Linked DNA regions of Homo sapiens: region 2 is linked to region 1. Evidence: fine-mapped expression QTL. Tissue or cell type: atrial appendage. Region 1 holds a variant in brackets; the other region holds the start of a gene. All regions are shown on one strand. Distances are from middle to middle.

What was found. PIP is the estimated chance that this variant, and not a neighbour inherited with it, causes the effect.
Region 2: it holds the start of PEBP4, and the variant in region 1 is fine-mapped to the expression of PEBP4 in atrial appendage (GTEx, PIP 0.91).

The regions. Positions count from the first base shown.
Region 1 is chr8:22,746,255-22,748,931 of GRCh38, reverse strand. All of the region lies in intron 4 of PEBP4 (phosphatidylethanolamine binding protein 4), which reads left to right. It overlaps LOC124901908 (a long non-coding RNA gene), which reads right to left. Exons shown (of 3, transcript XR_007060855.1): 3 at 1-1,406. Among named protein-coding and RNA genes, the nearest start is that of EGR3, 54 kb to the right of the region's middle. The variant C/T (reference allele first, on the strand shown) is at 1,353.
Region 2 is chr8:22,926,727-22,929,403 of GRCh38, reverse strand. It overlaps PEBP4 (phosphatidylethanolamine binding protein 4), which reads left to right and starts at 1,490. Exons shown (of 7, transcript NM_144962.3): 1 at 1,490-1,581; 2 at 1,684-1,820. The coding sequence starts at 1,690.

The sequences.
Region 1 (2,677 bases):
GCAGAATCCCAGAGTTCAGAGGTACCCAAGGGGTCCTCTGGGCCAACACCCTTCCCCCAGGCAAGTCCGCACCTAAATCATCCAGGACTCGTGGAGGCCTCTCCTGTTCTCCTGGGGTGTGTAGTGGTGGCCGAGAAAAGGCCTACCCTGCATGTGGGAGCCTCGTAGCTTCTGGGGGGCTCTCTTCTATTTTTCTGGGATGCTCTTGCTTATAGGGAACCCCAAGACTACCAAAAGCTGTTCCACCCACCTCCCCACCCTCCCTCTGACTCAGGGCTGCTGACAGCCGGGTGAACTCTGAGTCACACCCCCTCCTTGTTCTCCCCTCAGACCACCCTCATCATGTGCAACCTAGTACAGAAGAATGCTGGGGAGGGGAGAAGAGCAAGTGGAGCCTAAGGACTTGACCCTGAGCAGCTGAAGGTTGGGAAATTAGGATCACAAGTCCTCAGTGCCCTCTCCCCTCAGGCATCTAGCATGCAGTTTCGCTCTGATGCAACTCTCTGCCAGGCGGGTTCTGTGACCCAGCATCCCGGAGGCTTGGGTACCTTCTGGGGCAGGAAGAGAAAGTATCTTCTTCTCTCCACACTGTAGCCACATTCCATCAATACGGACTGATGGGCTTCTGTCCCCTCACCCTGGAGGGCTCCTCTCAATGGTCCATCCAACCTCAGCCACAGGCTTGGAGCCATCATCATACCCTAGCAGCCTGAGCGCAGCCCCCTCTTGGAGAAGGGCTCCCCTTTTCTCTCCAGATCTGGGGAGATCTGTAAGCAGAGCTTGGCACAGGCTCATTGGTCTCCCTTCCTCACACCTCCCTGCCCGGGTGTGTGCCTGCACGTGTGTGCACATGCGTGTGGATGTGCCCCAGTTGCTGAAGTTGACTAAGAGTCTGAGCATTGCATAAGCCAGGGCCCAAGTCCAGGCAAGGGCCAGCCTTTCCTCCGCTCTCCACCCAGGCTGGGACGAACCTCTCCTCCAGCGCCAGGACCCACAGCTCTGTGGGAGAGCCTGCACGCGGCCCTGGGCTCCTGCTCCACAGTGCTTGTGTGAGCACACACTCACACATTCCCTGAGAAAGCCCCCGGGGCCTCTGTGGGAAGGCTTTCCGGGAGACTTTTATGGCCAAAGAGGAAGGAAGTCCATCGTTGGAACAGCCAGGGCCAGGCAGCGGGCAAACGCCGGCCAGGAGCAGAGTCAGGCTGCAGCCTTCCCACTGTGAATTCTTTAAGCCTTTTCCTAGTCTCAGGCTACTCAGCGAGGCAGCGCCAGGCTGAAAAGCAACATCCCGTAGGGTCCCCCTGCCACCCCTCAAGCCCCCCACCCCCCTGAGCGTGCACACCCATGCACAC[C/T]CCACTCACCCTGCTGCTCACACTGGCTCCCCCAGCTCTGATCACAGTAGGCTCCTGCCCAAAGAAACACAAACCTTGAGGCTTGCAATAAATCATCTTCATTATTTTACTGAAGAGGCCACAGAGACCCACAGATCTGGTGACTTGCCCAAGGTCACCCAGGTTCAAGTCCAGAACCCAGTCGTCTGTGGCCTCTCTCGGGTGCTGTACAGGAGGCTGGGCACAGCAGAGACCCTGGATCTACACAGTGGCACTTGAGGAAGGGACAGAGCCTGAACAAGGGTGGGGGCACCCCCAGGGACTTCCCAGGAATCCAGCACTTATTATCACCCACAGCTCTGATGTCCACTATGGTAGTCACTAAGTGCATGTGGCTATTTCAATTTAAATTAATTCAAATTAAATAATTTCACTTGTGGTAGCCCATAATAAGTACAAAATTAATAAATAATTCCAGGTATGGTAGCTCATGCCTATAATCCCAGCACTTTGGGAGGCCAGGGCAGGAGGATCACCTAGGAGTTAAAGACCAGCCTGGGCAATGTGCTGAGACCCCCGTCTCTAAAAAAATTTTAAAATTATAAAAATTAGCTGGGTGTGGTGGTACATGCCCATAGTCCCAGCTGCTTGGGAGGCTGACATGGGAAGATCACTTGAGCCGTAATTACGCCACTGCACTCTAGCCTGGGTGACAGAACGAGAGTCAAATAATTCTTTTTACAACTCCATTCCTCCGAACTTTGATGACCACAGGCAGCTGGCAGCTACTCTATAGTACAACACAAAGAGAGGACAACTCCACCATCACAGAATGTCGCACTGGACAGCACCGATCTGGAGGGAGGCAGATTGGGGATCGAATGGTCAGAAGAAATCTGTTCTCTGATGGAAGGCTGAGGTCCTCTGTGAAGGAAAGAGGGAAGAGAGGAGGGAGGAGAGGAGGAGAGAGAGGAGGGAGAAGAGGAGGAGAGGGCGGAACAAAGGAGGGGAGGGGGAGAGGCGGGAGAGAGGAGAGAGGACAGGGAGGAAGAGGCTGGAATCGGAGAGAAGGGGAAGGCAGTGAAGGGAAGGAGAGAGGACACAGCTCTGGCTTTCTTCTCTGGCTGAGATCTGACCAAACGCGAGGAGACTAACACTCTCCCCACCGCACCCTCCATCCTAGTCCAGAAGGACCAGAGCCCAGAATCACAGACACCGCAACCAGCCAGGGGCCAAAGAGACAACACCTGGTGGCTTTCCAGACCCAAAGTGCCCAATCTGCTTCCAAATTGATCAGCCCTTGTACCCAGAGCTCTCTCTAACCCCAGAGGGGCCTCCACACCTCA
Region 2 (2,677 bases), 180 kb before region 1:
AAAGTTGAGACTTCTCTAGTGGATGCCATTTGGAAGATGAGTTTCTTGGTCTTGGGCAGCCCTTCTGGCAGCATCTCCTTGGCTGTGGCTGTCCTGTGAGCTGCATGCTCAACCTATACCCCAGGGCCCAACATGGGGCAGGCACGTGGGAGGTGCTTAATGCCTATGAGTGAAGTGGGTTGCAAAGGAATGAATGAATGGATGGATCCGTGAGAGAATACTTAGACTATTCATAAATTATTGAGCATTTACTATGTGCCAGGCACCTTACTGAGGGCTTAACCTGGTTGATTTCATTCTCATAATGATCTTGTGAGGAGGCTACTATTAGACTCTGTCCACTAGGGGAGATCTTGGGAATATGTTTTCTGGTTGGGGCAAGGGGGAGTCCTGGTTGTACTTCAGAGAACCTAATGATTGAGAAATGTGTTTAATATGTAGCCCCTAAGGGGGGCTTTTTGCTACAGGTTGGGATCCTGGAGGCAGGAATTGAGCCAGAAAGCAGACTATGCTGAAAGTAGTTTCTCTAAAGGTCTAGCTGCGTGTACTTTACAGCGATGATCTCATATTCCTTAGCAAGGCACCACGGTGACAGGAATTATTTTACTTGTTTGTGAAAAGGAAAAGTGGTGCATTCTAGGGAGACACAGTGGCCTCCCAGCATCCAGAGAGAGCTCAGAGCAGAAGCCAGGAGTCCTGAGTTGCTGGCACGTCTCTCCCACCCCCGCCTCTGAGAAGCAGAGAGCAGAGCTATTGGAAAGCCTGTTGCAAGCCGCCTTTATTCTTCTCCCTGCCCACTCAGGCTCAAACCAGAGTCCCACATGCACCTGGTGGCAGGACTGTTCCCCAAGGGAATGCAGGCGACAGTCCCCGGCTCCCCTTCCTCCCAGTGCACTGCTGGGGCAGGCCACCCCTTTCTGAGCCCCAAGCAGCTCCCCAGACCTCCTTCTCCAGATACGATTATTTTGGGAGAGTGCTGAGTGCAGCACAGCTGCAAGGTGCACCCAGACGCACCCTTCTGTCCTCAGCTGGCCCTTCGGAGCTGGCCCTTCGGAGCTGGCCTCGGTCTGGGGTGCACCTACCCCCACCCCCTGCAGCAGTCCCTCCTACACAAGGTCACTGTGTCCAACCACCTCCACCTTGGGGAAGCTCACAGGCTGTGGAGACAGGTGGTGGAAGAATGGGGGCCAGGAGAGTCAGAGCCGGTCTGAGGGGCACAGCCCAACTCCTAGCCCTGAGCCTGGGGTCACCAGCTTCCCAGGGCTTGCCTTACAGCCAAGGAGCAGGCTGGCCTTTGGCCAGCTGACCATCCCTGGGCCAACAGCAGGGACTGGACAAGGAGCTGCACCGAGGAGCTTATATAAGCACTTCTACTTTGCAGCCTGCTCTCTGCCCTGGCAGCCAGGACAAGAGTGACAACAAAGCTGTGTCCTGCCAGGGGAGGGGCCTCTGCCAGGAACGTACATTGAGTCCAACTTGGAAGAGGCCCAGTCCTCCCAAAGTACTTGTGTCCGGGTGGTGGACTGGATTAGCTGCGGAGCCCTGGAAGCTGCCTGTCCTTCTCCCTGTGCTTAACCAGAGGTCTCTATCCTGCCAAGTGGGCCCCTGGGGTCGGGGGCACAGGTAGTGGGCAGGAAGGCCCCTGCAGGGGATCCAGCCGCTCTAAAGTTCTTTCTGTTCCAGGTGCCCATGGGTTGGACAATGAGGCTGGTCACAGCAGCACTGTTACTGGGTCTCATGATGGTGGTCACTGGAGACGAGGATGAGAACAGCCCGTGTGCCCATGAGGCCCTCTTGGACGAGGACACCCTCTTTTGCCAGTAAGTCAGGGCAGGCTTGGAGGCGGGAGGCACAGAGGCTACCAGGCAGGTAGATGGCAGGGAGGGGTATATCCAGAACCAAGAAGCACCATCTCCTGAGCCTGATTTTATGGGAAGGCAGAACACGTGTCAGATCTGGAGACCACCTTGATGGAGGATGGCACTGAGAAAGGGATTTAGAAACAGACTCCTTCCTGCCTTCCAGAATGCACCTCTCCCAGGACCAGGAGGGCTGTGTATGTGGTCGGCTCTGCTTGGGCCCTCCAAACCTGGGGGGTCTTTGTGGGGGCAGGAGGCTGAGACCCTCAGAGAGAGACCCAGAGAGAGACCATCCCTCCCTGCAGCCTGAATGCCCCCTCTCCCCAGAACCCCAACAAAGAGGCATTTGAATGAAAGAAGGTGTATGATTAGACCCTTCCTGTGTGAGAGGTTTTTGTCAGTGATAGGACCCAGGAGCGTTTGTGCAGGGCCCTTTAGGGATCATGGCACTGGATGGAGTTGGGTGACGAGGCTGGCTTCTTCCCTTCCAAGGGCACAAGCTGCTTCTACTTTGGGTAAGCTGGAAAGCCTGGCGTTCGGCTCTCTCCTCACCAACTCTGCCGGTTAGAAAAGCAAGCCTTCATTTGTGTGGACTTGTGGGTCATCCTGAGGACTCCCCAGGCCAAACTGATGCCAAACCTCCCTGCCAGTTTGGTGGCTGAGGAGGGGGACACCCCACTGAGCCCACGTGTGAGAAATGAGAGAGGAGGAAAAAGAACTTTGACTACTTACTCTCTTCTGTACCTTTGAATTTTCACAAACATTACTGTTCATGAAAATGTTTGTTTTTCTTTTTAATTTTATTTAAAACATTTTTG